Regions from separate parts of the Homo sapiens genome. Here regions 1, 2, 3, 4, 6 and 7 are each linked to region 5. The links come from fine-mapping of genetic effects on gene expression. A gene starts in region 5. Each other region holds a variant in brackets. All regions are shown on one strand. Distances are from middle to middle. Region 1 overlaps LARGE1 (LARGE xylosyl- and glucuronyltransferase 1). Region 2 overlaps LINC01643 (long intergenic non-protein coding RNA 1643). Region 3 overlaps LARGE1 (LARGE xylosyl- and glucuronyltransferase 1). Region 4 holds the start of LOC124905106 (a long non-coding RNA gene). Region 5 holds the start of LARGE1 (LARGE xylosyl- and glucuronyltransferase 1). Region 6 has its middle 54 kb from the start of LL22NC03-13G6.2. Region 7 overlaps LARGE1 (LARGE xylosyl- and glucuronyltransferase 1).

The links. PIP is the estimated chance that this variant, and not a neighbour inherited with it, causes the effect.
Region 1: its variant is fine-mapped to the expression of LARGE1 in skeletal muscle (GTEx, PIP 0.92).
Region 2: its variant is fine-mapped to the expression of LARGE1 in unexposed skin (GTEx, PIP 0.99).
Region 3: its variant is fine-mapped to the expression of LARGE1 in whole blood (TOPMed, PIP 0.92).
Region 4: its variant is fine-mapped to the expression of LARGE1 in whole blood (TOPMed, PIP above 0.99).
Region 6: its variant is fine-mapped to the expression of LARGE1 in sun-exposed skin (GTEx, PIP above 0.99).
Region 7: its variant is fine-mapped to the expression of LARGE1 in aorta (GTEx, PIP above 0.99).

Annotation. Positions count from the first base shown.
Region 1 is chr22:33,363,097-33,367,637 of GRCh38, forward strand. The region is part of intron 9 of LARGE1 (LARGE xylosyl- and glucuronyltransferase 1); the gene reads right to left. Among named protein-coding and RNA genes, the nearest start is that of MIR4764, 71 kb to the right of the region's middle. The variant T/C (reference allele first, on the strand shown) is at 2,469.
Region 2 is chr22:34,096,846-34,101,386 of GRCh38, forward strand. The region is part of intron 2 of LINC01643 (long intergenic non-protein coding RNA 1643); the gene reads left to right. Among named protein-coding and RNA genes, the nearest start is that of LINC01643, 82 kb to the left of the region's middle. The variant A/T (reference allele first, on the strand shown) is at 2,631.
Region 3 is chr22:33,575,417-33,579,957 of GRCh38, forward strand. The region is part of intron 5 of LARGE1 (LARGE xylosyl- and glucuronyltransferase 1); the gene reads right to left. The region is part of intron 1 of LOC105373007 (a long non-coding RNA gene); the gene reads left to right. Among named protein-coding and RNA genes, the nearest start is that of SNORA50B, 130 kb to the right of the region's middle. RefSeq lists a silencer at 4,246-4,315. The variant T/C (reference allele first, on the strand shown) is at 2,013.
Region 4 is chr22:33,219,626-33,224,166 of GRCh38, forward strand. It overlaps LOC124905106 (a long non-coding RNA gene), which reads right to left and starts at 2,160. Exons shown (of 2, transcript XR_007068071.1): 1 at 1,977-2,160. It also overlaps a transcript of LARGE1 not described here. The variant C/T (reference allele first, on the strand shown) is at 2,317.
Region 5 is chr22:33,917,796-33,922,336 of GRCh38, forward strand. It overlaps LARGE1 (LARGE xylosyl- and glucuronyltransferase 1), which reads right to left and starts at 2,681. Exons shown (of 15, transcript NM_133642.5): 1 at 2,200-2,681. LARGE1-AS1 (LARGE1 antisense RNA 1) reads left to right here and starts at 3,430. Exons shown (of 2, transcript XR_001755630.2): 1 at 3,430-3,728. RefSeq lists silencers at 2,209-2,308, 2,579-2,728, 3,049-3,548.
Region 6 is chr22:34,262,374-34,266,914 of GRCh38, forward strand. No RefSeq gene overlaps it. Among named protein-coding and RNA genes, the nearest start is that of LL22NC03-13G6.2, 54 kb to the left of the region's middle. The variant A/G (reference allele first, on the strand shown) is at 2,554.
Region 7 is chr22:33,837,547-33,842,087 of GRCh38, forward strand. The region is part of intron 1 of LARGE1 (LARGE xylosyl- and glucuronyltransferase 1); the gene reads right to left. Among named protein-coding and RNA genes, the nearest start is that of LARGE1, 81 kb to the right of the region's middle. RefSeq lists an enhancer at 4,355-4,414. The variant A/G (reference allele first, on the strand shown) is at 2,861.

The DNA of each region.
Region 1 (4,541 bases), 550 kb before region 5:
GGGCTGCTCAGGTTGACTCTCCTTTGGAGTAGCAGAGTGTGAGCTGAGGGAGACCAGGAGAGGCAGGGTCCCCCTGTCTACAGTAGTATCTGCACACATTCCAAAACCCAGAATGGTTGCCTGAAACCATGCAATAGTGCTGTATAAGTCCGTTTTCACGCTGCTGATAAAGACATACCCAAGACTGGGTAATTTATAAAGAAAAAGAGGTTTAATGGAGAACTCACAGTTCCGTGTGGCTGGGGAGGCCTCACAATCATGGTGGAAGGTGAAAGGCATGGCTTACATTGGCAACAGGCAAGAGAAAGAATGAGACCCAAGGGAAAAGGGAAACCCCTTATAAAACCATCAGATCTCATGAGACTTATTCACTGCCACAAGAACAGTATGGGGAAAATCACCCCCGTGATTCAATTACGTAACTCCCACTGGGTTCCTCCCACAACACATGGGGATTATGGGGGCTACAATTCAAGATGAGGTTTGGGTGGTGATACAGCCAAACCGTATCACGTACCTAACTCCATACCATGTTTTTTCCTATACATACATACTTATGATTAGTTTAACTCATAATTAGGCACAGTGAAAGATTAATAACAATAAATTATAATAAAACTGAATAATTATAATACGTCAGCACCACTGCTTTTGCACTTTGGAGCCATGACGAAGTAAAATTAGGGCGACTTGAACACAAGCATTGCGATCCCAGAGAGTCAATCTGATAACTGAGATGGCTACTAAGTGATTCACAGGCCAGTAGTGCAGACAGCATGGAGATGCTGGATGAAGGGATGATTCACCTCCCGGGTGGGACTGAGCGGGATGGTGAGACCCTCTGGGTCCTCTTGGTGCCTGGACATTTCTGTGGAGCCCTCAGGGATGACCCAAGAACACCGTCTGTCCCACCAGGCCAATCTGGGTCTCAGAGTCCTGGTCAAAGTGCATCTTTGCTATATATTTTTTTTTTTTTGAGACGGAGTCTCGCTCTGTCGCCCAGGCTGGAGTGCAGTGGCGCAATCTCGGCTCACTGCAAACTCCGCCCCCCGGGTTCACGCCATTCTCCTGCCTCAGCCTCCCGAGTAGCTGGGACTACAGGCGCCCGCCACCACGCCCGGCTAATTTTTCTTTGTATTTTTAGTAGAGACGGGGTTTCACCGTGTTAGCCAGGATGGTCTCCATCTCCTGACCTCGTGATCCGCCCGCCTCGGCCTCCCAAAGTGCTGGGATTACAGGCGTGAGCCACTGTGTCCGGCCTATTTTCATTCTTTTTCTCCGCTTCCTCCCATCTTTTGTTTTTTCAATCCCGTTCCGCGTTTACGAAGGACCTCCTAATTGCTGTTTTTTATGTTCTTCCCTTGGGAGTACAACAGCCTCTCCTTACTCGGGGTTTTGCTTTTCTCCACTTCAGTTACCAGAGGTCAACCACTGTCTGAAAATATTAAATGGAAGATTCCAGAAATAATTCATATTTTAAATTGCATGCCATTTTAAGTAGCATGTTTCATGCCACTTTACATAAGTCATTTAAGTTAAATAATACAGTATTTGTCCTTTTGTGTTTGGCTTAGGTCACTAAGCATAATGTCCTCAAAGTTCATCCAAGTTATAGCATATGTCAGTTTTTTGTTTTGTTGCCCAGGTTGGAGTGCAGTGGCACAATCACAGGTCACTGCATCCTCTGCCTCCTGGGTTCATGCAAACGTCCCACCGCAGCCACCCAAGTAGCTGAGACTACAGGCACATGCCACCATGCCGGCTAATTTTTTATTTTTTGTAGAGACGGGGGTCTTACTATGTTGCCTAGGCTGGTCTCAAACTCCTGGGCTCAAGCAATCCACCTGCCTCAGCCTCCCAAAGTGCTGAGATTACTGGCATGAACCACCATGCCTGACCTTCAGAATTTTATCCCTTTTCAAGGCCTGCCAAAGTTTTTAGTTGTACTTATTTTTATGTTTTTATTTTTGATATAAAAAGACTTGAGAGTTTAGAAGTCTCCTGTGCCCTGCCTGGTCAAGAAATGTCATTCATCAGGAGGACACAGGCCTTCCAAAGCACTACTTCTATCTGTTGTAATTCGCTCACTGATGGCTGAACCTGACTTTCTTTAGAAAGTCATCCACTTCTCCATTTGTGACCTATTACATCCAAGACCCAGATTGTAAGGTATATTCCACTTCAATTTTTCAATATAGTGCCAAAGTGTTTTCCAATTTGGTGTATCCATACACACTCCTATGGGTGACATAACAGACCACTGGTCAACTGAGACTTGATAGTATCACTCTTCCAATTTGGTGGCTATAAAATTATTTGTGGTCTTAATTTTCACTTCCCTGATGAACAGCGAGGCTATATATCTTTTCATGTGTTTATTGGCCATTTGCCTGGCAACCAAGTGAAAGGACTGTTTACATGTTTTACAGATTTATCATTCAATATTAAGAGTTGCTTATATATTTTGT[T/C]TAGTGCTCTCTTGTCAGTTACATGTGTTGAAGTATCTTTTGCTTTTCTCTCTTTTTTTTTTTTTTTTGAGATGGAGTCTTGCTCTGTTGCCTAGGCTGGAGTGCAGTGGCACAATCTCGGCTCACTGCAACCTCTCCACCTCCCGGGCTCAAGAAATTCTCCTGCCTTAGCCTCCTGAGTAGCTGGGACTACAGGCATGCGCCACCACGTCTGGCTAATTTTTGTATTTTTAGTAGAGATGGGGTTTCACATGTTGGCCAGGCTGGTATCGAACTCCTGAGCTCAAGTGAGGCACCTGCCTTGGCCTCCCAATGTGCTGGGATTACAGGCGTGAGCCACTGCACCTGGCCTGCTTTTCTCTTTTTAATGCCTGTTTGATTGAGTTATTGATATCAATGTGATTAAATTTACGGATTCATTCATTTATGGTATGCGTTTTTGATGTCTTGTTGAATACATACTTCTCCATTCTGAAGTCTTAAGGCCAGTTTCCCTTTTCATTTAAAAAATAAAAGTTTAATTTGGCCCTTCACTTTCTAAGTTTCTAATCCGTCTGGAATTAATTTTATGCATGGTATGAGACAGGGATCCACTTAAATTTTTTCCATGTGGATAATCAGGTGTCTCAGCACAGTTTATGGAAAACTTAATCATTTCTTCAATGATCAGGTATGTTGCCTCTTCATATACCAAAATGCTTTCATAAATGTGTGTGTGCTCTTGCACGCTCTCCTCTTTCCAACTAATTGCACGGCCCTGAGCAAATGCTCAGCAATAGTTTACTGTAGGTTTTCACTAGTTACTATTTATGAGAGTTTTTATCATGAATGAGCACGTAATTTTGTCAAATAACTTTCCTTCATCTGTTTATATGATTATTTGGTATTTCTCCTTTAATCTATTAACATGCTGAATGACACGTGGATTTTTCAATGCTAAATCACTCTTGTCTTTCCTGGAACAAACCCAACTTGGCAATGATATATTATCTATTTTATACATGGCTAGATTTGGTTTGCTAAATATTTTGCTTAAGATTTTTGCATCTATATTCATGAGTGAGACTGGCTTGCAATCTTCCTGTCTTTGTGACGTGACTTTGCTTCTCTTTCGTCTTCCGCCATGATTGTGAGGCCTCCCCAGCCCTGTGGAACTGTGAGTCAATTACACCTCTTTCCTTTATAAATTACCTAGTTTCAGTCTCGAGTATGTCTTTATTAACAGCATGAGAACAGACTAATGCACTTTTTTTTTGTCTGATTTTGGTGTTGATAATATCCTGGCTTTGCTGAATGGGTTAAAAAGTGTTCCTCTTTTCATATTCTCTAGAAAAGTTTATTTAAAATTGGAAATGTCCTTGGATTAAAAAAAATTGGTAGAACTTATTTCTACTTGCCGTCTAGGGGTACTGTTTTAAAAAGGTTTAATGGCTAGAAGATAATCTAAACTTTATACTTTTTTCTTAAATCGGTTTTGGTAAGTAACACATTTCTAGGAATTTGTCCATTTAACAAAAATTCTCAAATTTGTTCACATAATGTTGTTCACAGTATTCTATTTTTTTTTTCAATTCTGCTAATTGATTGAAAGCTCCACCAACTGAGACTGTTTGCTTTATCTTTGCTGTATATCTAGAACTCAGAAGTCACTTGCTCAAAAACAATGAGAGAATGAGTAAGTGGATCTGGAATTAGGTGCCCCTATTCATTTCTTGGTGAGTTCACTTTCTTTTTTCTTGATGAGTCTCGCCATAGGTTTGTCTATTTTATTGGTCCCTTTCAAACTTTTGACTTTATTGATCAATTTGCTGACCAACTTCAATTTGATTGCATTTGAATTTAATGTTCTGTTCTGTTGTGTTTTGTTTTTAGAGACAGGGTCTCATTCTGTTACCCAGGCTGTAGTACGGTGGTGCAATCACAGTTTACTGCAGTCTGGAGCTCCTGGGCTCAAGTAATCCTGCCTCAGCCTCTCTAGGAACTGGGACTTGAGTAGCTACCACCACTGCCCCACTCCCATCCCCCCATTTATTTATTTTTTGGTAGAGATGGAGGTCTTGCTTTGTTGCTGAG
Region 2 (4,541 bases), 180 kb after region 5:
CATGAGCATGTAGAGGTGTGTAAGAAGTAATCATTGCCCCCCCCATGACCTTATAGTCACAAAGTCTGTCATATAACAAGCATTCTATGATCATGTGGCAAGATTTTAGAAGAGGTTGTGCAATCAGCTAGGGAGTACACAGGCAGTGACAAAGCTCAGCCTGGTGACTGGGGAAGACTTCATTTTACCAAAGAGGGACCAGCAGGAAGAGGAAGAGGGAAGACACAGGGTCAGAAAAGCATGTGACATGTTGGAAAGCAGGGAGCCGTTTCCTGTAGCTGGGGTTCAGTGTATAGAATTTGGACTGGGGGCCAGGCGCGGTGGCTCATGCCTGTAATCCCAGCACTTTGGGAGGCCGAGGCAGGTAGGTCACCTGAGGTCATGAGTTCAAGACCAGCCTGACCAACATGGCAAAACCCCCGTCTCTACTAAAAACACAAAATTAGCCGGGCATGGGAGGTGCATGTAATCCCAGCTACTTGGGAGGCTGAGGCAGGAGAATCACTTGAACCCAGGAGGCAGAGGTTGCAGTGAGCCAAGATCACGAGACTCCGTCTCAGAAACAAACAAACAAACAAAAATTGGATCAGGGAAGTGGGAAGAGATGAAGCTGGAAACATAAATTGAAGCCTGATTGGTGAGGTCATTTTATGGCCACAGCATTCGCAGTTGATAAGCAGGCATGTTGCATGGAAGGCTTTTAAGTAATAGGTGCTATAGCCAGTGTTTGATTTAAAGAGGTCAATGCTGATAGTGTGTAGGTTAGATTGAAATGTACAGGGTTTTCATCAGGAACAGGAAGGTTAGCCAGGGGGTTTATTGGAATTGTTTGGATAAATGATGATGCAGGACTCAACAGTGGCCGTGGAGGTGGGGAGGGATGTGGGGAATTTATAAGAGAATGGCAGGGAAGAAAGTGGAGTGTAAGCTAGAGGAAGGGATCATGCGAGGTTAGAAAATGGCATAGATCACAGTAACATTAACCAGAGCAGAGAGTGCAGGAGGAGAGGCTGCATTGGAGGCAGAAGGGAGGCAGGGAGAGAGACGATGGATTCAGCTTTGGACTTACTGCATTTGAGGGGTTTGCAGTATATCAAGGTGGAGTTGACAATTAGACCTTTACATTTGAGTCTGGAGCCTAAGAGAGAGTTTAGAGATAAAGGCCTGGGATTGGTTGGCGTTTAGGTTACCACTGAAATTCCAGGCACGATTGAGTTCTCCAGGGGGAGTATGATGAGAATAAAAGAAAAGAAAATATAAAGGGGCTAAGATAGGTGGACACAAAGAATCTAAGTTTATGAGTCTATCTCCCCATAATTGGAAACACTACTCATAAGAACCATTCTTCCGAAAGAAATTGGCACAGTTAAATGGGACCAAAAGAGACCACGCCCTTTTAGGGAGTCCCGTTAGACTACAAACTCCTTGAGGTCAGCCAGCACATCTGCCTCAGTGCATAGCCCAGTGTTTGGCACATAAGCATCCCTCCTCTGTGTTATGAATGAATGAGGATTCATTGTAGTTGGCATACAGAAGACCAAGAGACACCTGAAGGCTGTCCTGAAAGGTTTGAAGAGCCAAGTGGACACCACAAGGTCTCACTGGTTTGAAAGTTCACAATTATGGCGTGGACATTATAAAAAAAGTCAATTTCAGCTGTTACATCAAAGAAGAGCTTTCTGAAAAATGAAGGATTGAGGACCGGGCGCGGTGGCTCACACCTGTAATCCCAGCACTTTGGGAGGCCGAGGTGGGTGGATTGCCTGAGGTCAGGAGTTTGAGAGCAGCCTGACCAATATGGTGAAACCCAGTCTCTACTAAAAATACAAAAATTAGCCAGGTGTGGTGGCATGTGCCTGCAGTCCCAGCTATTCAGGAGGCTGAGGCAGGAGAATTGCTTGAACCTGAGAGGCAGAGGTTGCAGTGAGCTGGAGTCGTGCCACTGCACTCCAGCCTGGGCAACAAAGAGACACTTCATCTCAAAAATAAATAAATAAATAAATAAATAAATAAATAAATAAATAAAGGATTGAACAGTGAGTCATGAGTTTTATGTCCCCAGAGGCCATTAAGCCTGAGGCTGGGGTGGTCTTCAGGGATGCTGGAGAAAGGATTCCCTATTGCCTGAGGGTTGGAGGTAAACCCCTCTGAGATCCTTTCTGCCCTGAATTGAGACCTAACTTGCAGGATTAATGGAAAAAACTTGTTTATTAGAATGAAGTTCATCAACATTCAAATACCAGGTTGGTGGCTTTTTAGCTGTGTAATCTTGGACAAATTATTCACTCTTCCTGAGTTCCAAGTCTTCATTAATACCATGGGCTTATGATGCCTATAGTAAAGGTTAGGATTAGGGTTTGCTACTTATCATAGAAAAGCTCAGATACCACTGACTTGAATGAAATAGAAATGCGGTTTTTATTTCTCCCAGAAATGTAGTGTGTAGGTAGGGATTCTAGGGCTAGTGTGCAAGTTTCTTTTATTTTTCTGCCCCACCATCCTCATGTTCATCCATCCTCATGTTCACCTCAAGATTCAAGCTACCTTTAAGGACCATCCCTACCCCCACCTCCACATTCTAGGTTGCAGGAACTGTGTGGGTGGGGTGGGGGAAAGGACAAATATAGGCT[A/T]GTTTTCCTGCTGAACCAGTTTCCTTCTGCTTTTATCTAATTGGCCACAGCTTAGTCTCATGGCCACAACTGACTGCCAGGGAGTCCGAGAAATGTTCTCTTTGCTCCTCCTTCCCCAAGCAATTATGACTCTATCACTAAAAAAGAAGGTAGAATGGATACATGAAAAATAAAGTAGAGGTTCCTCTTCAAAGACTTTCCTCCCAGTCTAATTAGGAATAAATAGCAACTTCTCTTAAAAGCAAAATTTATTCAAAGACCTGTGCTAATATTCTTAAATATCTGCTAGCCATAATAAAGAAATCGATGTGCTTTATGTTCTTAGCTCCCACAATTTAGCCTAAATATTTGCCCTGGCATGCTTATACTAGTCCAAGCAAGCATTAAGTCATAGCCTGTTCCTCTTCCTTATCTGAAGGTGTTTTTACCTTTCTCAGCATTCCACAAGTTACTTCCTCCTTCCTTTGTTCTCCCCTGCCTTTGCCTCTTTTAAAAAGTTCTAAGTTGCTAGCCAATCAAGGCAAATACAGAATGTGAGGTCCCATTCCAGCCAGTAGAAACCGGACACAGCAGTAAGGTGGAAGCGTCAGGTTATAAATGACCCTGTCTCCTTTGTTCAGTGTACTCTCATGGCAAAACTGCTGGTGAGTGTACCCTTTCTGCAGAAAGTATAAAAATAGCTTTGCTGAGATTTATGTTCAAGTGCTATTTCTTTACAGCACTGAAGAACAAGCGTTTCAAACAGATATCACGGCACAATTGCCACTGTCTGCTCTTCCCCCTGGCAGAGTTCCATGTGGGTGAAAGAGATAATCCAGTATATATCAAATGCCTGAGCATAGTAGATGCTAACTAAATTGTCATTCTATTCTTATTCTACAGTAATTTGCAAGCAGATGGAACTTCAATATGGCAATAGAGAAAGAATCAATTAGACCAGAGTCTCCTCAGGAAGACTTTCTATAGGTAAGATAGAAAAAAGAATTGTAGTTTCCATTAATTGGCAATAGTAGGAAGAGTATTACAGAATAGGGGAAAATAGGAGGATAATTGTAATGCCCATTTGCTGAGGTTATGTGCCAGCCACTGTGCTTAGTACTTGGCCAGTGTTGTTCTCATTGAATTCTCATAACCACCTTACGAGATAAATACTATATTTGACCCTGTTTTACAAAGGAAGAAAATGAGGCTTTGAGCAGTTCACTGACTTGCCTGTGTTCAGGTAACTACTAAATGTTCAATCCAGAATTCATACTCAAAGATGTCAGGTTTTGAAGCCTGTAGTTCTAACCATGAGGCTGTATTACCACCACCATTCATTAATTCCTGCAAGCATTCATTCATGCAATGCATATTTGTTGAATTTCTACTCTATGCCAGGCATTGTTTGGAGCCTGGGGATACAGAGGGGTACAATACAGACAGTGTGTCTGTTTCAACAAATTTATATGCTGGTGGTGGAAATAAGTAAGTAGAAATAAGTAAGTAGAACCCTAAGTGAACAAAATAATTGCAGACACTGATAGATGTCATGGAGGAAATAGAACAAATAAAAGACTTGGCTGGTGGAAGAGGCTACTTTCAACAGGGTCCAGGAAGACTTCTCTGAGCTGGGGACTGGATGGTAAGAACCAAACAAGTGGCCAGGCACAGTGGCTCACGCCTGTAATCCCAGCACTTTGGGAAGCCAAGGCAGGCGGATCACCTGAGGTCAGGAGTTCAAGACCAGCCTGGTCAACATGGTGAAACCCGTCTCTATGAAAAAAAAAAAAAAAAAATTAGCCGAGTGTGGTGGTGGGTGCCTGTAATCCCAGCTACTCGGGAGGGTGAAGCAGGAAAATCGTCTGAACCTGGGAGGCTGAGGTTGCAGTGAGCCAAGATCATGCCACTGCACTGCAGCCTGGGTGACAG
Region 3 (4,541 bases), 340 kb before region 5:
CCAGGAAGGCTTCTTGGCTGTACTTCTTTTTAAATTTAGAAGTCCTGTTTAAATACAAGCAGCTCTAGGTCAGCTACAGCAAAATTCTTAGTAACCAGCATCAACAGGAGAACTGAATTACATATTTCATGCCTTCTTATATTAGCAACTTAGAAGGAAATGTTGAGAGAGCCTGGAAGCTGGTCTTTGCAGGTGACAGCAATCTCCCGTAAGCATCAATGAACATTTATTCAGACATACAACCCTAGCCCAAAATAAGATTAGCTGGCTTGCACCTAAAAATGCTCATTATTCAGAAGTCTACTAAGCAACCATCTTCTGCAAACATAAATAATTCCAGAATGATGACAAAGGAGAAGTGAACCAAGGGGAATGTGATCGTGGATCTACAGACACGTCCCTCCTCCTATCGGTGGCACAAAACCCCTTCCTCTCTCATCGCCCAGCAAGAAGCATCCTCTATTTAGCTTTGCGAAGCTTGAGGGGATTGGTCACTGGAGCATTTACAGACTGCCTGAACATCCTTCAGTACTTTATGTTATGAAATGGAGCATTTCAAAGCACTGGGAATTCTGATTTGTGAACTGGACTGTTACAGTGGCTTAATTTCCTGAAATATAGCTGCCTTCTTCACTAATAGATTTTTCAATGCACTGAGGAGAAAATTGCATTAGCTGCTGCGTAGCCTGATCTTAATAATTTTAGAAGCTGCAATTCTTATTACCGTGCACAGTATGTATTTATGTATGTAGACTTAGCACAGTGTCTGACACATAGAAGGCACTCAATGAATAGTTTTGAAAAAGTGAAACAATGCATTTACACAGAAAACACTTATTGAGAACCATTGCTTCTGATGGGGATATACTGATGCACCTGCTTCGTTCATTCATTCATTCAACACTTCAGCGACTTCTAAGTGTAAAGCTCTGTGCCAGATGATTGCTTTGAGGAAATAACAGTGCAGTTTGGGGAGACATAACAAATAATTTCAGAAAGGATGGTCACAGCTGTCAGGGTGGTGGTTTACCCTGACAGGAGGTGGGAGTGAGGGAGGTGGGGCATGGGATGGTGAAGATATCCAGGTGGCTTTGGTGCTATTGTTCTAGTTTTAAGTTAGATGACACGGTGCTTTATCAGGGTATGCCATAACCTGTCTATCTGTAGTCTTCCTATGTATGTGAATATGCTCATATATACAGATATCACCGCGAAAGCACATGGATAAACATGTGTGTGTATACATACCCTCTCTATCTGTGGAGGATTGGTTCCAGCACCCTCAAGGATACCAAAATCCTCAGGTGCACAAGTCCCCTGATGTAAATAAGTGTAGTATTTGCATATAACATAGGTATATCCTCCCATATACTTTAAATCATCCCTAGAGTGCTTATTAATACCTAATGCAATGTAAATACTATGTAAATGGCTGTTATACAGTATTGTTTAGAGCATACTGAAAAGAAAATAAATATCCATAAATGTTCAGTTCAGGTGTAACCCATCTATTCTTTTCCCCTGAATACTGTCAAGTCTTGGTGGGTTGAACCCAAGAATACAGAACCCACAGATATAGATAGGTGACTATGTATGCGTGGTGTATTTAGTTATATTTCATTCCTGTTCAAAGTGCTAAGAAGAGAGATAATCACTCTGCTATTAAACGCAAGTGGAAAAAAAGATTTTGTTTCTGTTACCATAAATTTACTCTACTGCATGCATTCTTAACAGACACAAAAGTTGGTTCTTGTGGGGATCAAAAAAAAATAAGATATTCCAATGGTTTGGTATTAAAATCTCATGTTAGAGGTTTAATCAGGGAAATAAAAAGTATAAAAAGGCACATAGGAGAGGGGAGTGATAATATTTAAAAAGAGGTTAAGAAACACCACCCTCCAGGATCTTACAACACTAAAATAGCCACAAAACAGAGAAGTATGCAAAAGCACACGCATACACATCTCAAAAACCTGCTCCCCGATCTTAGCCTCTGCTGAATCCAACAGTTC[T/C]TTCTTGCCTTTCTGAATTTAATCAGAAGGCAGCTGAATCAGAAAACACACTTCTCTGTTGTCAAGTTCATCTGGATATTTGGGGAGCAATTTCTCTCGCTCTCACAACCATACCTTCTTCCACTCTTACCTCCGCCTTCCCATGGAGCCATCTAAAAAGGGCAGCCACATAGGCTGCAATTAAAGAAGCCCCACACTGCTCTACATTAATGAGGCACTTTGCTTTTCATTTTCAGAGGGCTCTTTAGCACTTTGTAGGTGACACCCTTGCCTGTGACAATCTCTGTTACTAGCTGCGGAGATACACCTTGCAGGTGAGTTTAAACACACGGACAGCAACTTACAAGCAGGCAAAGACAGTTGAGGAGGATGATCCAGAGTTGTCCCTTTATTAATTTCTGATTGGTTTAAAAACTGTTTTCTTTCACCACACATAGAAGGCAAAAGTCTCTTGGTGTAGTAAAAGGAAAACCTTGTCAATGGCAGTCCAAATGTCTTCTGGCTGACAGCCAAAATGAATCTCTTCACTGGTCACCCTGAAAAGATGATGGCTTCACTCAGCTCTTGTAATACATCTAACAAACATTAACCAAAGGTCTTATTGCAATTTTGAATACTTTTAACCTTGACCTTCAAGCCCTGCTTCAGAAGATTTAGACCGTGGTAATATTGACATTCACCTCCCCCCGCCAACAACAGGCCTTTACTGTTTAATATGATGGTTGTCAAGGCAACCAGATTGTGAGGATGGCTGTCTAACCTTTCTAGATTTAGAATTTATCATACATGAGAATGCAGAAGGGAAAAATGTCACCCTTAAAAAGTAGTATAGAAGACGGTACAAGGTACAAGGTAATTCCATTGTGCCTTTACTTCCACTTGGGGATTTGGCTACTGATCAAAGGAATTCCTAATGCTCTAAATCCCCTTTAAAAAAATCACCTAATTCCGAAAGTGAGTCATTTATCTAAACACTCATTGTGTGTGCCAAATTCTGTACTAGATACTAAGGAAAGAGGAGTAAATGAAAAATGTTCCTCTTTCTTAGAAGATCACCATTAAATGGGAGAAAATATTATTATGTTTATAATAACAATCGCATTTGTTGAATGCTTACTATGTAACAGACAGTATACTAAAGCAATTTACAAGTATCTTTTAATTCACCCAATAACCTTTATTACTGTGTGTGATGTAGACATCAAGGAAATCACCCAATTATAATGAATTATAGGAGCTGGGATTAAAAATCAGATTTGCCTCTTTCCAAAAACCTTAATCGTTTTTGGAAATGGATTCAAATATGATACTCACATGATTATTACACAGTGAAATCTGTATATAAATTCTTACCAACATTCTTAGAACATAGCAAAATTAATTGTACTCAGAAATGGGAAGTAAAATCAGGAAAGACAAAGGTGACTACTAGATTGAGCTCATACTGTTAGCAGAAACAAACATTCCAATGCAGTTATAATAGAGTCATACACCTTCTCAGAACAAATGTTTCTCCAATCTCTAAAGGACTGCAAGTGGCCAGTAACGCTCTACTGAGAAAGCTGTTAACACCAAAATACAAAGCAGGAAGGGAAGCTTGGAAACATATGTCCAGACCCAGGAAGATTGTTACAATGGATTTTTAACTTCTGTACTTTAGAGTGTGTGATATGGTTTGGCTGTGTCCCCACCCAAATCTCATCTTGAATTCCCAGGTGTTGTGGGAGGGACCTGGTGGGAGGTAATTGAATCATGGGGGCAAGTCTTTCCCGTGCTGTTCTTGTGACAGTGAGTAAGTCTCATGAGATCTGATGGTTTTAAAAAGAGGAGTTCCCCTGCACAAGCTCTCTCTTTGCCTGCTGCCATCCATGTAAGATGGGACTTGCTCCTCCTTGCCTTCCACCATGATTGTGAGGCATCCCCAGCCACGCGGAATTTTAAGTCCAGTTAAATCTCTTTCTTTTGTAAATTGTCCAGTCTTGGGTATATCTTTATCAGCACCATGAAAACGGACTAATACAGTGTGCCAGGGAAAGTCTCAGCCTTCTAAAACTAACGGTTAGCATTTGTACATTACGGAGGGTCCTGAGCAGGAGCCAAGTGGAGCCTGGATGTCCTCCTTCAGGACACTGATAAAGACCTGCTGCAGCCCCAGCCCAGGGCTGGCCACACTTTGGAATTACATGGGCGCACTACTGGGCCTACCCCAGAAAAACTAAACTATGACATCTAGTGGTAGGGCCTGGCATTGCTGCTTGTTTGGGTTTGGAACACAAGCCATGCTAAAGTGTCATCCAGAGTGGCCCCTAGCATTGTTTTGGTGGTGTTGTTTTGTGTTACCAACAGTACCAAGTGATTCTTAGGTGCAATCAAGCCTGAGGTACACAACAATTGGGAAGTGAGCCAATCAATTAATTCTAACTGCGGAAGATCAAGACCCAACTTAATAGCACAGCTCTGTAACTTTATTTTCTGTTTGCACAGAATTGCTGAGTTCCTACATAGTATACATATTTTTTAATCCCCTGG
Region 4 (4,541 bases), 700 kb before region 5:
TCTCTTCTGGATCCTAAATCCAGTGCTGATTCCTTAAATCCTATTGGACAGCATCCCTCAGGATTCATTCTTGAGTCAGAAAGGTGTTCAACCATTGCCAGAAGTGACCCTCTACTATTCATGATGCTGAAGCCTCACTTTGAAGCTGCCAGAACTCAGACGCCATGCCTGGTGGATTTATTGCCCAGCCTGCCCACGGAGCAGGTAATTAGTTTGAAATGGAGAGCAACAATGAAGGTCAAACTCCCCCACTGTCACAAGGGACAGTTTGTTCCCAACAATTTCTCTCATAAAGGACCTGGAATCCTCCCCTCACACAGCCTTAGTCCTGAGAAGAGAGAAAAAAAGAAAAGAAAAGAAAAATACTTTCTCATAAAAGTCCACTCTAACCTTGATTTTTGTTGTAGCATTCTACAAGGGCTGATAACTGCTGGGATAATACAACGGATGGTGAATTTGATTCAATCCTGAATTCCGCTGCAGAGGGCTCCTGTGAGAACCGCTAACCTATCTTAATGGAAGAGGACAAAGAAAGGTCACCTTTGGATTTGTGAGGTCACGCACAGCTCAGGAGGAATGAAATTTACTGAGTTTGCTGCCAGCTCAAGCCATTTTCTCAAAATGACCATCTCTCTAGGGAGAGATATTATGCTCATACTGTTAGAAGCTCGGAGGCTAGGTAATAAAACAATATATGTTTGCTGTTTTGTCAGCTTTGGTTTTTGCTTTAGCAGTTGTTTAAAACGTGAAAAAAATCAAAGAAGAACAGAAAAATAAACAAGCAAAAAGACTAAAGACAGAGGGAAATGGAGAGTCAGCATACGAGGGGGAAAGAGCAGAGTGAATATAGAGACAGATAAAAGAACAGGGTGGAGTGAAAGGGGAAAAAAATAGATTCTACCTCCCTCCTTTTTCATTTGAAGAAAGCTTGTACGTCAGCTTTTCACTTTCCTGATCCATAAAAATTGTCAGTGACCCTGTTTCTTCTCTCCTCTGAGCCTGGAACAGGTATTGAGGGATAATCTTAGAAAGTTTTAAATTGCCTGAGCACGGCGCTGAAGCTGCCCATTGACTACTGGGAGTCTGGTGTGTTCAACAGAGGATGCAGCACAGAAAAGGAATCAATCTCTGAATCTTGTACCTTTATCAGCCCATGCTGGCTGCCCTCCTCCCTCTCCTACCATCTCCTGGAAGAGCTTTCAGCTGAATCCTTCATGTGCACTCTCTCGGATAAACAGTTGCATGTAATCCCTTGCTATGCAGGGGACAGAGATTCGGCCTTGCATGGTTAGAGCAAGGATTCTGGGCTCTGATTTCCCCATTCCTCCCTCTCTTTCTCACTCCCACAGGAATGAGGCCCTGAGAAACTGGAAGGTCAGGGAAGATTCCTGTGGGACCCCCACAGGAAGATTCCTGGGTTTCCCCCTCAGCACACCCTCCCCAGACACACCTGACGGCAAAAGCAGACATCCTCCTATCATTAAGAAACTTATAAAATTATAATGTCCTTCTATCTTCAGCTTAATACCTTGCCGTTGTTAAAAAGAGAGAGAGAGAGAGAGGGAATAACACAAAGGAATTAAGCAAAAGGCTATTTCCACACACGATTCTGATTACAAATTTAGTGCTGTGTACATCTCTAGCAAGGTCAATTACAAACATCGAGGGGAAATGCCTGTGCCGGTTTTTTTCCGTATCTCAATTCTCTCTCTCCTGCCAATCCTGATATTCTTCTGCAAGGGACCACCTGCTGAGTAAAGGTTGGGACATAGTTTTAAGTCAAAAATTTTGCTGCTTCTTAGCATTAAAAAGATGCAAGTTATTTAAAACTGGGTATACATCTTCAAGGTCACTATTCTGGAATTTAAAAATCAAGCAAATGTTGAGTCATCAAAGGAAATTTGCATTTATTTCAATAACTGAGGAAAAACGACTAGAAAAAATGTAACCCAGCTTTTAGATGGATATCTCCTTACCCCCAAAAGATGGATTTATATCGGCTTATACCTCTCCCCAGTCCATGGCCTGTGGAAGTCCAAAGCTCTTTTCTTGTGTTTTTGAAAATTCTTGGAATCTTCCTTTTCCATTCCCGCCTCTACTTCCTGGATACTGACTCATTGTGGACTGCCTCTTTTCTGGGCTTTGGGTTGACCCAGATATGAAACTTCCTGAAACCTCCACTCACCAAATAGGAACCAGCCCCACCAATCATCTGTGAACACTAAAGTCTTTACTAAAGATTTTAAAAGGGAAAGGAGGTTTATATGACAGCAATAAGAACACCACAGTCCTCCCCCTTCTTAAAATATCTATGGG[C/T]GGGCTACATATCAACTAAACATTTTCACTGGCCCCTCAGCTTGTTCCACTTAATTCTGCTGGCTCTTTGCCATTTTTCTCCCTCCCTCTCTTTTCCTTCCTACCTCTTTCTGGAGCATTAAAATGTAATTTCTCTCTATTTCCACTAAAGCCTTAGCTCTAGCCAGCATGTGGGTTGGGTGACAAGGGAAGGACTCACCAAGGAATCATTTCGAACACGATACTTAAAATACATCTAAGAAAAAAGAAAAAGGGCAGAGAAGTTGGTGGTCACCACTGCGTAGGACCTTTCTGTGCCTCCAGGGTGCTGCACCTGAGTGCTCCAACAGGAGAGACAGCCAGGGTTAGGGGTGAGGGGTCTAGAAGGGAGGGTTACCAGCATGAGCCTGGGGTCTGCACTGCTGAGAAAGAAGGGCCTTGGGGGAGAGCATTTATCCTCCATTCTTCATGTTTTCATATTGCAGCATGTTGAATGGTGCCCCCCCACAAAAAATATGTCTATATCCTAATTCCCAAAATGTGCAAATGTGACCTTCTTTGGAGAAAAGGTCTTTGCAATGTAATTAAGTTAAGGACCTCGAGATGACATTATCCTCGATTATCCGGGTAAGCTCTCAGTCCAATAGCAAGTGATGTTGTAAGAGTCGGAAGAGGAGACTCACACACAGGAGGAGAAGACCATGTGAAGACAGAGGCAGAAACTGGAATGAGCAGCCACAAGCCCAGGAACCCTAGAGCCACCAGAAACTGGAAGAGGCAAGGAGTAGAGCCTTCAAGGGGATCATGGTCTTGCCCACACTTTGATTTGGGACTTTTGGCCTCCAGACTGCAATAGAATAAATACCTGTTGGTTTTGGCACCTGGTTTTTTGGCAATTTGTTACCGCAACCCTAGGGTACCTCATTCACACCTAGAGGGGCCTCCATTTGAGTAATGTTCCTGGACTTTTTCCCCAGAGGGAGCAACATGACTTAAACTACAGAGTTGCAGGCCCCCCCAGTCTCCCCTAAATGGGGTCTGCCTACCTGCACCCTTTTTCTCACCTGCTCGCTTACGTGTTGTAAAGAGCCTGCCCCTATCAGGGGAGACGCATGGGTGTGAAGTTGTGCCAGCAGCTGGATGAATAAACGTGCCTTATTCAGGGTTAGTTAGCAAGATCGCTTTCCAACAGGCTGACCCACTTTACTCCAGTATCATTCATAATAACGGTGATAGTTTCATCTCTATCTGCCTGATTCTTTGGCCTCTCAGGTGGAGAAAGTAGACTGTTATTCGTTCGCTTCCTAAAGCCTTGAAATAAGTCAAAGGGGCAAGGCAGAAGCTTGAGCAGAAAATGAGCCAAGAATTTGATGGTAGGCAACATCCAGATTTAAAAAAACCGTGATACCTCACGTGGTGCCTGCCAATTGGGCATTTCAGGGATTGGCCTGTGCATTTGCTATAGGCACCTTTTCTTCAAGATACTTTACTTCCATCTACTAGAAAATGGTTATAGTAGGCTGATTGGGATAGAACCAGAGAGTTTACTTTCATCTGCCTGGAATCGCCACAATTCAGGTGCAAGCAATGCCTAAGATGAGAATGACGCCCTCCAGTGTTGTGTGGTGCCCAATCTGTCCTGTGGTCAGTAAGTGATGGTTCTTATACCATATTAGGGAAAAAGGTGATACTCATATGCCACATTTCTCTCTCCCTCGTTCAACAGAAGCAGCCCTCATGCAATTCAGCCCCTCAGAGGTCACCTACTGGATTAGGCTTGCATGTCAATGACTCGGTTTAGACTCAAGGAACCGTACTTGTTATACACTTATCTAAAAATGTCAAGTTCTGCCTGGACCAGCCTTTGACATTATCTTACTTTAGGTCTGGTACCAGACCCTTCCGCTTAGAGTCACAAAGCACCTGGCCCTGCAGCTTGTTTTTGCTATAGGACAGTCAGTCAATCCCAAACAATTCACAAATGCTCACCCAGCCCCACCATTGGTCGGCATCCTCGTATGCTCACAGCCACCTCTATGCCCCCAGCTCTGCAACAGCCTAGCACAGTGAGGGGCACATAGAAAGTGCTCAGGATGGGCGCGGTGGCTCACGCTTGTAATCCCAGAACTTTGGGAGGCCGAGACTGGCAGATCAGGAGATCGAGACCATCCTAGCTAATGCAGTGAAATCCAAAAATTAGCTGGGCGTGGTGGTGGGCACCTGTTGTTCCAGCTACTCGGGAGGCT
Region 5 (4,541 bases):
AGAATCCACTCACTAGTGCAAGCATGTACTAGATCCCAAAAAGTTCATCTCAGGAACCCTCAAGATAAACCACAGTCTCACGAACCCTCAACATAAACCACAGGCTCATGAACCCTCAAGATAAACCACAGTAACATGGGCCCTGGTGTTTTCTTCTTCGATGGTGGAAAAGATAACTAGTCCCCCCTAGTGTCCTGCTACTGTAGGTGGCTGAAGGATGGCGACACTACAGGACGCACCCTCCCTGCACTGTGCATCAACTTTAAAGCGCAGCTCAGGAACCCAGAAACAAAGGAAACCTTCGTCACAACCTTCCCAAGAGATGGAAGCACTTCCGAGACCTATGATGAGATGAAAAAAACCTTTCATTTCATTTCTAAGGCCCTTCCAGGTATGGTTTAAAAGCCAAAGGAATCTGCATTGGCTCACATCAAAAAGTTAATCCACACCCCAGCACACTTCATTAAGTGAAGCAGGAGGGCCCACACTTGTCAGCAGCTACTGCTCACTCCAGAGCAATCCGATCTTCCCGTTAAAAACCTCTCTCTCCTGCCAGGGGGATTTGATTCCTTTCCTCGCCACTCTTGAAAACCCACTAACCTCTAAATCTTGGTGATTTTTGCCTCTCTGTTCGAGTGAGTTTTCTTCCTGGTATGGAATTAACAGGGACAGGCTCGATAAATGTGTTCTCCACAAGCAATTTTCACTAAAGTACTCTTGAACAATAAAGGTACACTAAGAGATGTGTGAAATCTTAAAGCTGGCGTTTTTATTTCTTTTATTTTTACCCCTAGGGAGGACCAAGCGTGCCAGTGAGTAATTCATTCATGTCACCCATTTGTGAGGGATGGGAGAAGAAACAACCACCACTTGTTCCCTTCTTAATTTAGAAGCTTTCCTTATCTTAAGTCTATCAAAGCTGACTCCTGAGGTGGGAAGACAGGAGAAGTGAGAAGAAAAATTAACCCGAGGTGACTGCCTCCACGGAATGATAAGCACTTCAGGTCTCCACACCTGTGTCAGAGAAGAAAGGCATCTGCATGTCAGGGAGGCGGACGCCCCCACCTGCCACCCCCTCCGTTTCTCCCCTTGAAGGAAGCAGGAGCCTGATCTCCCCCCACTCCCTCCTCTCTCTCTCTCTCTGGGCACTTACATAAGACCCTGTAAAACTTCCAGTGACATTCACGAAAAATGTAAGCTGCTATTTTGCTCCCTCAGGAGATCATTTTAATGGACTGAGTGACAAAATTCACGGATTCTGAATTCAGCAGAAACCTGCTCAACCGAGGCACATCAGCACAGAGACGAAAAAAAAAAAAAAAAAGAGTCCAACCCCATTAAACAGGGTCACCCAAGGGATGGATTCAGTGTGCAAGAGACAATCTGTTCCCTCCGAAGTGACCCATTTAAAATCAGATTGTTCTGGGGGAAGCTCACAGGTTTAATAAATTTCAAACAGGCAAGGACAGGCTTGTACAACTGAGGTTCCTTAAGAGGAACATTTAAAAGAGGATAAGGCAATGAACAAAATAACTTGAGGATACACAAACTTTGGAGTCCTCACTCCAAAACTTCAAAAGCAGTGACATTTACAAGAATGTCTGGATAGCTATACACTGATCACTCCTCACAAGCAGCTTTGACTAACAGGAAGGACATGCTGGCTGGGCTTCCCCCCTACAGATAGCAATGCCAACCAACCACTCTGTCCTAAAGAGGGACTCGCAAGCTGTGGCTGCTCGCCCCCAAATTGCGCAGGACTGTCTGCAAGAAGGAACAAGAAAAGTTATTCACAGCATCACACCACGAAAGGTAGTTGCGTACCGCCCAACAGGGCCCTCTCCAAACACGGCAGGCTCCGCGAACCACAGGTGCTCACCGCTAACAAGAGGGCCGGGGGTGCGGGTATCGGTCACATGCCCTCGTGGTGTTAACCAGAAACTCCTCCTGGCTCGCTCCCTGCCAGCAGCCTGTGTGCCCAGAAGCCGAGCAGGCCCTGAGGGGGTCCTGGGGACTTCGGAGACTGGGGGCTTCCACCTCCAGCCTCTCCAGGGCTCCCGGCCGGGGCAGCAGAGGGTGTGCCCGGCCTCCCCGCCGGCATCCCGAGTACAGGGGGTACCAGCCACAGGTTCGGAGAACTTGTCCGGCGCTACACACCACGGCGCCCCCGCGGCGACTCTCGCGCTCCGGGGCTCTTACCTTGGCCGTGACTGCCGCCAGGCAGAGGGAGACACGGAAGAACAGGGTGGCGCGGCGGCGCCGCCGCCTACGAGGCGCAGGGGGTCCGGGTCAGGGTCCCGGCAGGCGCTGCCCTACTCGGAGCGGCGGTGCCAAGCACAGAGTTCGGGACTGCCCCCGGCTCCAAATGCCGCGGCGAGGGTCCGGGTCCCCCAAGCTGAGCACTGTCCCTTCTTCCTCTTCCTCCGGGGCCGCTGCCTGGAGCTGCTCCCGGCCCGGGGGACTCTTCCGAGCCAGGGGCGCCCCGCATGGGCAGGGGCCTGGGTCAGCCTCGGGTTGGGTCCAGGGAGCGACCGCCGGGGCCGACTCCACCTCCCGCGCTCCAAGCCGATTCGTCCCTTCAGGGCAGGGCCTGCCCGCGAACAGCCCGGCGAGACGAGCGCGGCCGCGCCCCCAGCTTCGGGCGCCCGGGCTCCGGCGCGGCGGCGGGGCAGGAGCAGACTGGCCGGGCCGGGCGCCGAACGCGGCGGCGCGGGGGGGGCTGCAACCGGCCGCGGCGCGCTCTCCCCCAGGGCCTGCGCCGCCCGCCCGCGGCTCCGCGGGAAAGAAGCGCCGGAAAAGGCCTCGCCCCGGCCTGGGGCGCGGGGCCGGGGGCGCGGGGCTAGGGGAGGCGCCCCGGGAAGGTCACGGGAGCGGAGGCGCGGCGAGTGGATCGCGGCGCGGTGGGTGCGGGGAGCCGAGGCGGGCGGCCCCCGCCGCCGGGAGCGCTCGCCGGCCTTGGCCGCCGCCGCCGCCTCCGAGATGCGCCGGCTTCCCGGAGCGCCCGGCGCTCGGAGCTGGGCGGCCGCTGCAGCCGCCGCGGGCAGCCGGGCGCCGCTGGCCGGAGCCGGCGCGCGATCCCCGCCTCCCGCGCCCGGCCAGGAGTGGGCCGCCGCGCGGGAACCGGCAGGGGCGGGCGCTGGGGTCCGGGCTCCGGGCTGGCCCCGCCGCCTCCGCGTGCCCAGAGCGCCGGACTCGCTCAGCAGCTGCAGTGACTGTGTGTCTGTGTCATGTCTGTGCAGCCGGGGGGGACCGCGAGCCGGGGCTGGGTTCCGAGCGGGGGCGGGGCCGGCGCCCGCGTCGGCGCCCGCCCCCGACCCCGTGACCGAGCGGCCGGCCAATGGCAAGCGCCGCAGCCGCGCGGACCGAGAGTTCGCCCCCGCACAGGCTCCGCCCCCCGGCGAGACTCCGCCCCGGTGCTTCTTCAGCTCGCTGGCTGGCAGGCAGGCGGAAGCAACACCCGGAGCCGGGATCCCGGGCCGGGTCGGGATGAAAGGGTGCAAGCTGGGAGCTCCCCGCCCTTCTTCCCCCAACCCCGGCGGCTCCCGGCCGCCTCGGGCTTGGCGTGCCTCGCGGAAAAAGGGGGAAGGGAAGCGGGACGGGCCCGCAGCTGCCGTGGTAGAGAGGCTCGCAGGCTTGCAGGACCATGCAGCCTGCTCCCCAAATTGCACAAAACAGCCGTCGTGAGAAGTAGGAAGTTTCCCCGCCTCGGGTCGCAGCTTCTCTCGGAGGTGGGCATGCTGTGGGGCAGCCGGAGTCTGTGAGGAGCCCCGCCGAAGGGCTCTGACGGCATCTTTCTGGGATCGGTATCCAAGAATCCTGTCCAAGGCTTCCTCTTCCTCTGAGGAAACTACATTTCTTTTTCCTCCACCCCAAACACACACCCCATGCACGCACAACACGCCCCTCCCCTGCTGATTTTATTCTCGCTCTTTCCCTCTTGGCATAAGAACCCGGCGCGCAACATCCCTTGAATGGACTTCCAGCCTCCCAGTTCTAGGGACCAGGGTGGGGGTACGGAGAGTCCTCCCGAGCCACAGGAGAAGTGGGTGAAATGGGTCGGGGCACAGGAGCGGGGGTGTGAGAATGGATGGAAGGAGGATGCCCTCGAGAGAAGACCCAGAGGAGGCGAAAGCAGAGAGGCAGGGAGAGAAAGAGGACGCCGAGAGCTGCACAACTCGGACTCGGAGACCGGAGCTCCGGGCGCGCGATCCAGCTCCCGGGTTTTTCCGCAGCTCGGTCCCAGGGCTTCTGGGGTCCCCTTCCCCCCGGGTCTCCACCTCTCCCCAGCCGGGCGGGCCGCCGGGTCTTTGCCTTCCCTCTGCGCGCCTCTCCGCTCTCCAGGACTCGAGCGAGGCAGCGGGAAGCCCACCCTAGTTCTTGGAAGGGGCAGGGGAAGGATGGGCTGGGGAGGGGGCGCGCGGGAAAGGGCCGCCGAGCTTGGGTTGCCCAGCTGACCCCACTCCTCGAGGTCGGGCTGGGGGGGTGGGGCGGCAAGGGCTTCGGAGGCTTGGCCCCTGCTTGGCTCCGGACCTGGCTCCCGC
Region 6 (4,541 bases), 340 kb after region 5:
ATGGGAGGTTGTTACTTCTTTCAGACGGTGGAAACTTTCTGCATTGAGTTGAAGATCTTGGGTGACTGCATTTGAATGCAGCCTACTTTTTACAAATTGTGTGATCTTGGGGATAATTTCTTCTCTATCCTGTTGTTTCCTTACCAGTAACTTGGGGATAGCCTTATCAGCAGGGAATAGGTTCCATGACTCCCAGTGGATGACTGAAGATGGATAGTCTAGAACCTTATATTTACTATGTTTTTTCTTGTGTATACATATCCATGATAAAGTTTAAATTATAAATTAAGCACAGTACTCTTGCACTTTATATCCATTATTAAGTAAAATAAGGGTTACGTAAGTACAAACAGTGTGATACCCTGGCAGTCAATCTGATAACTGAGATGGCTATTAAGTGGCTAATTCAAGTAGTGTATACAACACAGATATGCTGTAAACTGAGATAATTCATGACTCAAGCAGGATGGCCTATGATTTCATTACACTACCAGAACAGCATGCAATTTAAAACTTAAGAATTGTTTATTTCTGGAATTTTCCATTTAATATTTTTGGAGTATGGTTGACCAGAGGTAACAAACCATGGAAAGTGAAACTGTGGATAAGGGAGGACTACTATAGTATCTTCCTCATAGGGTGGTTATAAAGATTAAATTAAGGTAGAGGTTGAACTGCAAAGTATTTGAAGCATGCTTAATATAATATGTATTGTATTTTCCTATGTGTTATTAATAACAATTGCTATTCTAAGGGTGTCAAGCAGGGTTTTTCCTATTCTTCTAGAATTTTGGCTAAGGTCCAAAACTGAGTAAAGAAGATAAGTATCACATATTGCAACTTAACAAAACTGCCATCAGTTGATATCAGCCCCCATATCAGAGGGCTAACTACAAGGCACCAGTTTAGACACTGTCCGTAGCTCTCACCCACTAGAGTCCTCAGACAGTCAATATTAGATGAGGGCTGCAAATGAGACAAGCTGCTCTGGGGAGAAAACTGCTTATGAAGAGAGGCTTTCTCCCATTGCTCATTACTTCACTTCTCCATTCAAACCAGAGGGACAAAGGAGAGTGTCGATATATCCATACTGACACCTCTGTCCTCTGCCCTGGGGTCTAGTACAACTCTCCTAGAAATTTTATAGTGCCGCTGGATCTGTAGAATGTTTACTAATGTTGGGATTAAGAGAAAGAAACAGGAGAGAGATGGCAGAGCTGATTAAAATCAGCCTTATTCTCTCCTCCAACAAGGCAGTTCCATAGTCTACTATTTGGCATGGATAAGATATATAAGTTTCGTATGGATTGAAAAGAAACCCCAGAAGCCAACTGGGCTTGAGCTGTTTTGCTAAATTCGTGCTCAGTAAGACTGAGGTCTAGATGAAGGGAATCTAGCCTGTAGTCCCAGCCACTGGGGAAGCTGAGGCAGGAGAATTGCTTAAACCTGGGATGTGGAGGTTGCAGTGAGCCGAGATTACACCACTGCACTCCAGCCTGGGTGACAGAGCGAGACTCCATCTCAAAAAAACAAACAAACAAACGAACAAAAAGTTTATGTAGTATATCAGTGGTATTAGGGATTGGGAAGGTGGAAAGCACAAACTTGATCTAGGTCTTTCATTCTCCAAGATGGTGTATGTATTTAGGGTTTGGAGACCCACAGGGCTGGTGATTAACCAACAAGTGTTTTTCATGAAAGAGTCAGTATTTTGATGACTGTTACACAAAGAATCCTTAAGCCCATCAATGTCAAGGAGCAGAGGCTATTGACAGAAAAAGACCTGCCAACTCACTATGGTATATGCCTTCATGTAATGACACTTCTGTCTCCTTGTTTCTCCTGCTAGCTTAACACCAGAGGATACTCGGGGAAGAAGCAAGGTAAAATAGAGGATTTCTCCCCACCACCCCACTTGTAGCTTAGGCTGCTCTGAAACAGGGAAGAGCTTTGAATGAGACACAAAGTGTTAGACATTAAAATGGTGAAAGAGTGGTGGGTTGGTGCCACTATGCCATTAAGAAACACACTATTAAGGGGAGAGGGGACTTCCTGTGATAACAGTTGGAATTTCTACTTTTGGCAAATATGAATTAGCTTGTTCAGATGAACCCTCCAAGAACAAGAAGAAAAACTGGACAAAAATAAGAAGGAACTGGAGAGCTATCAAGACAGCTAAGACTTGAGGGGTCAAGATTCCAGAGAGAAGTCAACCTGACTTTGGGTGCTACTTTTCCCTGTAACATTTGCTGATTCAAAAGAGGGACTTGAGAGGCTGAGCAAAAAGTGGTGGTTAGAAGTCTGCATAGACAGGCAAAGCTTCCACCCATCTCATGGACATAGAGGGGGAAAATAATTAGACTTTTAGGATTCATCAGGGAGAAACCACACTAGTAGTAGGCAGCCGTTCAGGATTTTTAATTTAAAAAAGAGACTACAGTTATTAAAAATGGACTTTAAAAATATTAACATGCTCAAAAATTTAGATGAATTGAAAATTTTCATCATAGAACTGGAAACCAGACAAATAAATTTTAATTAAGAATCGTGGCC[A/G]GGCACGGTAGCTCATGCCTCTAATCCCAGCACTTCGGGAGGCCGAGGTGGGTGGATCATGAGGTCAGGAGATCAAGACCATCCTGGTCAACATGGTGAAACCCTGTCTCTACTAAAAATGCAAAAAAATTAGCCAGGCGTGGTGGTGTGCACCTGTAATCCCAGCTACTCAGGAGGCTGAGGCAGGAGAATTGCTTGAACCCAGGAGGCAGAGGTTGCAGTGAGCCAAGATTGCGCCACTGCACTCCAGCCTACATGGCAGAGTGAGACTTAAAAAAAAAATCCTGAAGGGCTGCCTTCTGCTAGAAAGAAAACTGGAAATAGACTAGCCTTTACAAAATCCTTTATAAAATAAGAACAGAGATGATCTCTCTTTACCCTTGTTGCCAATTACAAATAAAATAACATCCTCTCTTTAGAAAAAATATTTTTCAGAGCCCCCATTAAAAATAATGGAAAACAGCATTCGATAAAATATTACCAAGTGTACTAGAAGACAAAACAAGAGAAAAACCAATAATGAAAAGATACGCACAGGAGATATAGATACTAAAGTTATTAAAAATGGACTTTAAGAATACTAACATGCTCAAAGATTTAGGCAAATTGGAAATTTTCATCATAGACCTGGGAACCAGAAAAATAACAAATTAAAATTTTAGAATACACAAATGCAGTAACTAAAGTTTAGAATTTGATTACTTGGTTTAACTGTAGATTAGATGGGAGCAAAGAAAGACTATAATGATGATCTATTTTAAAAAAATCCAGACGAGCATGAAGAGAAAAATTAATGGGGGTATGCAGAAAAAAATGCAAAATATACAATACAGGAGTGAAAAAGGCTAACATGTATAAGGGAAATCACAGAATAGAGGTGAGAAAGAATAAAGCAGAAACAATATTTGAAGAGATATTAGCGGCCGGGCATGGTGGCTCATGCCTGTAATCCCAGCACTTTGGGAGGCTGAGGCGGGTGGATCACGAGGTCAGGAGATCAAGACCGTCCTGGCTAACATGGTGAAACCCTGTCTGTACTAAAAATACAACAAAAATTAGCCGGGCATGGTGGCAGGCACCTGTAGTCCCAGCTACTCTGGAGGCTGAGGCAGGAGAATGGTGTGAAACCAGGAGGCAGAGCTTGTAGTGAGCCCAGATTGCATCACTGCACTCCAGCCTGGGCGACAGAGCAAGACTCTGTCTCAAAAAAAAAAAATATATATAGATATATATAGATATAGATATATATACATAGATATCGATATATATACATATATAGATATATAGATATATACACATATAGATATATTGATATATACATATACATATGTATATATGGATATGGATATACATATACATATACGGATATGGATATACATATATCCATATATAGATATATATACATATATCCATATATAGATAGATATACATATATCCATATATAGATAGATATACATATATAGATATATATACATATATAGATATATACATATATACATATATAGATATATATTATACATATATAGATAGATATTAGCTGAGAATTTCTCTAAACTGATGAATGACAAACTTAAGTCACAGATTATAGGTGTTTAACAGATCTCTAGATTAATAAATATAAAGAAAACACATGTAGGTACATTATAGTAAGTTAGTTGAAAACCAAAGACAAATAGAAAACTTTTAAGGTAGCCAAAGAGACACATTACATTCAAAAGAGCATCAGTAAGAAAACTTGTGTCTCAATAGAAATGACAGAGTTCGGAAGACAAATTTCAAAGTGCTAAAATAACTGCCAACTTAAATTTCTGCTCAGAGCAAAAATTAAAGTGAAATAGACATTTTCAATTAAAGCTGAATTTATTACCATCTTACCCATGTTAAATGAAATACCAAATGTCTTCATGTAGGAGAAAATATTCTCAGAATAGCACAGAATTAAAGAAGAAATGAAAAGCAACAGAAAAAGTAAATATGTATGTAAATGA
Region 7 (4,541 bases), 80 kb before region 5:
GCAAGCAGCCTAAGTGAAAAGCATTTGTAAACTGTGAAAACCCTTGTGAGAGTCAGCTACATAGATGACTATGATCATCTGAGTCCATGAGGCATCTTCAGGATGCCTCGGAAGAAGAGCTGACCCAGGTGAGTGTGTTCGTATCAAACAGCTGCAGGTAGGGCTGAAGCCTATGGCCAGAGCCGGCTCTCAATGAGAACTTCAAGAGGCTCTGCCCCAAATGAGCCTCAGGTGTGCTAAGGTGGTGCCTTCAGCCCCAGGCCAGCAAGATATCTTCCACTTATCCCAGTACACTGAACAAACATTATCATTTTCCACAAAGTTTCAGGGTGGGAAAGTTGAGGATATTCTACTTTAGAACACGGGCCAGCAAAATTTTTATGTGTAAGGTGAGATAGTAAATCACGTAAGCTCTGCATGCCATACTTTCTCTCTGGCAACTCGCAATCACTGTAGTAGGAAAGCAACCACAGATAAGAGGAAACAGGCATGGTTGTGTGCCAAGAAAACTTAATTTATGGACAGTGAAATTTAATTTTCACGTGCTACAGAACAGTACTCTTGTTTTGATTTTTTTGGACACTTTAAACATGTAAAAGCCATTCTTAGCTCATGGGCTAAAGGAAGACAGACTGGCCCACAGAATGCAGACTCTTGCTCTCAATCATTACCCCTACACAATCTCTAGTAACATGGAACTTCAAGCTTCTGACATTCTATGTGGGGACTATGGCTGCTGAAATCTCGTCTATTCAATCTTCAGTGACTCATACAGCCACTAGGATCTCAAAAAATGTGTTTTAAAAAATTGGACAGGTGTAGTGGCTCATGCCTGTATTCCCAGCACTTTGGGAGGCCAAGATGGGAAGATTCCTTTAGGCCAAGAGTTTGAGACCAGCCTGAGCAACAGGGCAAGACCCCATCTCTACAAAAAGTTTAAAGATTAGCTGGATGTTGTTGAGCATGCCTGCAGTCCCAGCTACTTGGGAGGCTGAGGCAGGAGGATCACTTGAGCCCAAGAGTTTGAGGCTGCAGTGTGAGCTATGATTGTGCCACTGCACTCCACCCTGTCCCCAGCAAAATAAATAAATAAATAAATAATTGTCCTTTAGCGATTTCTATCCTAATAAAACATCTTTGGCAGTAGATCACCACTGCGTTCTGGAACAGTCCGTCCTACTGGTGGGGAGTTCCAGAGGTTAAAAGTTCTTCCTGAGATGATGTTCATCTCCCTCACTCCCCCAAAGGCTCCTGGGTCTCCCTGATTGTGTCTGCAGAATTAATCCAATCCATCTTACCCGTGACGGCTCTCCACGTTTTTTGTTTATATCAGGGAGGAAAAAAATGAAAGGAATGAACTACTCCCATAATAGAAAAACCTTTGCCAGGAGAGGAAGTGAATGTAGAATTTCTGATAGAAACCAATGCTTTTACCTAAACAGTGGCTTCAGAAATAGCCCAGTCCATAGACCCACCAAAAAGTCAAGAAATAATTTAGGATATTAGTTCATTTTTGCATCGCTAGAAAGAAATTCCTGAGGCTGAGTAACTTATAAAGAAAAGAGGTTTAACTGGCTCATGGTTCTGCAGGCTTGTACAAGAAGCATAGCACCCACATCTTCTGCACTTCTGGAGAGGGCCTCAGGAAACTTACAATCATGGTGGGAGGTAAAAGAGGAGCAGACACGTCACATGACAAAAGTGGGAGCAAGAAAGAGGGAGGAGGTCTCAGATTCTTTTAAACAACCAGATTTCTCATGAGTAAGAACTGTTTCATCACCAAGGGGTCAGTGCTAACCCATTCATGAGGAATCAGTCCCCATGATCTAATTACCTTCCACCAGCCCCATCTCCAACACTGTGGATTTCACTGCAACATGAGATTTGGAGGAGACAAACATCCAAACCATATCAGCGAGAAAAAAGCATGTTTTCCTCAACCCCTGGCAGAGAAGATCCCCATTTACACATATGTTGGAACAAACAAATAAATAACTGAACAAATAAGTGACCATATGTTAGCATGCCAATAGAGAACATTCTCATTCTACCGCAGCCTGTATAGATCACAAAAACAGAACAACTAGTGAGAATAAGATTTAGTAGCCTGAACAGTTAAAATATGAATGCTATGGGGACCAATTGATTCTTTGCTAAAATTCTTAATTTCCCTAGAGACAGACTGACTGCCTTCAAATCACACGTTTACATGAAATAAAAAAATAAGAAAAGCGATTATTAACTACCTACCAGGTATGAGGCACTTTGACTTGCGTCACCTCATCTAACTTTCATGCATGCCTACTACAATGAACTATGCCCCTCATTGTTCCAGAGAAGATCACCTGGACCCAGGAAACGTGGGGGCTCCAGGCTTCAAACCCAGATGCATTCAACCCTAAAGCCCAGGCACCTTCTGCTGTAGGAGACATAAAACCCTGCTGATCCCATTTACTTATGAAACGATCTATGGGCCAGATCATTAGAGAAAATGCCTCTAAAATGCCTCCGAATTGAAGGTGGTAAGAAACTATGTAAACCAACACAGGAAAATGAATACGCAGGAAATGCACACCCATACTAACTAGGTTTAGGATTTTGCCCTACTTCATATTCAATTATAAAACTATTTGATTTAATAATATATGCAAAGCAGCACTGCACCAAATCGGCACCCCCTCAAGAAAATGCACATCCCCTCACTGTAAAATCTAGGAAAAATAATAGAATCCATGCATAAAAAGGGACCTAGTTTTTAAAAGACAAAAATGGTCATAAAAATGAATAAGAAATCCTGTTGCAGTTTTACTTCCTGTCTTTAAAAACTTTTTATACATACATTCTTTTAAAACTATTTTTG[A/G]AGACCAACTCACTTTGGCAAAATACTGAGAGTAATATAGTTTAATCTCTATTAGCTTGGAGCTGTGAAACTACATTGTTGATTTATTTCTCACACAGTCAAAATTTGGTGTGAAAGGTTCTAGCATCTTTTCTTGCAAATATCTAGTATTTTACCACTTTTAAAGTACTATTGGATCTATTGCCCTCCTTCATCTTTACAGCAACCCTAGATATAAGGTAAGTACAGACAGTCCCCGATTTAGGATAATTCGACTTAGATTTTTCAGCTTTTTTTTTTTCTGGGAAAGGGTCTCGCTCAGTCACCCAGGCTGGAGCACAGTGGCGTGATCACGGCTCACTGCAGCCTAAACTCCCCAGGCACATGCTACCATGACCATCTAATTTTTCTAGTTTTTATACAGACAAGGTTTCGTCACGTTGCCCAGGCTGGTCTCGAACTCCTGGGCTCAAGTGATCCACCCGCCTCAGCCTCCCAAAGTGCTGGGATTACAGGCGTGAGCCACTGCACCTGGATGACTTTCCAGCTTTATGATGATGCAAAAGCAATATGCATTCAATAGAAACTATACTTGAGTACCCATATAACCATTCTGTTTTTCATTTTCAGTACAGTATTTAATATACCTAGGCTTAGGTTGCATGATTTTGCCCAAATACAGGCCAATGAAAGTGAGCATGTTTAAGGCAGGCTAAGCTAAACTATGCTGTAATGTAGGTTAAATGTATTAAACGCAAATTTTGAACTTGATATTTTCAACTTACGATGGGTTTAGCAGGATGCAATCTATGCTAAGCCAAGGTGCGTCTGTTCTGTTACTCTCATTTTTTTTTCCTCTTACAAATGTACAAAAAATGTTTCAGAGTTTTTGAGGGAGCTTTCCAATGAAAGTGACAGAAAATCCAACTCAAACTAATGCAGGCAAAATAAAGGACTGAATAGTTCACAATCTGTAAGGTCCAGAGGTGAATCTACCCTGTGGCAAGGTTTGATCTGGGTCCAGGAGATGGCCTGGTCCCTCTCCACCTCAGCTCTGCTCTCATCCACACGGACTTCATACTCAGATGCCATGCAGTAGCAAGACAGCTACTAGGTTGGATGTAGCTACAATATCCGCAGCTCCAACCTCTGAGTTCAAGGCCAGTGGGAAAGAACACACATACCTCTCAACAGCCCCAACAAAAGCCTCATCACATCTTGTGGGCTCCAACTAGGTCATGAAACCACCTCTAAGCCAATTACTATAAGCCAGTATTAGGAATAATCTGAGTCCTATGTCTCCCCCTGAAGCCCTGCACAATATCATCTCCACCAAAGTCCATGGGCTAAAGGGTGGGTGTGAGTGTGGGTCTCCCTGGGAAAACTAAGCAGGGTGAATAAATACAAAGTCAGAAAGCCAAGAGATCCTCAGCACAGGCTATGTGACTTGCCCTGAGTCACACTGCTACTAAGAGACAAAATCAGGACTCATGCACAAATCTCCTGGGACCGAGTACTCCAAAAATAGTGGCAAATTATTTTAAAGCACACGGGTGAATCACAAAAAGTCCTCCAAACTGAACCTCTTGGTCACAAATAACAGTCTAAAATATTTAACAAACTGCCAACAGGACTTCAAAGAAAGCCACTTACAAAATAGAAAGTTTGTAACATTAAACACAGTTACTGTTATCGAAATCGA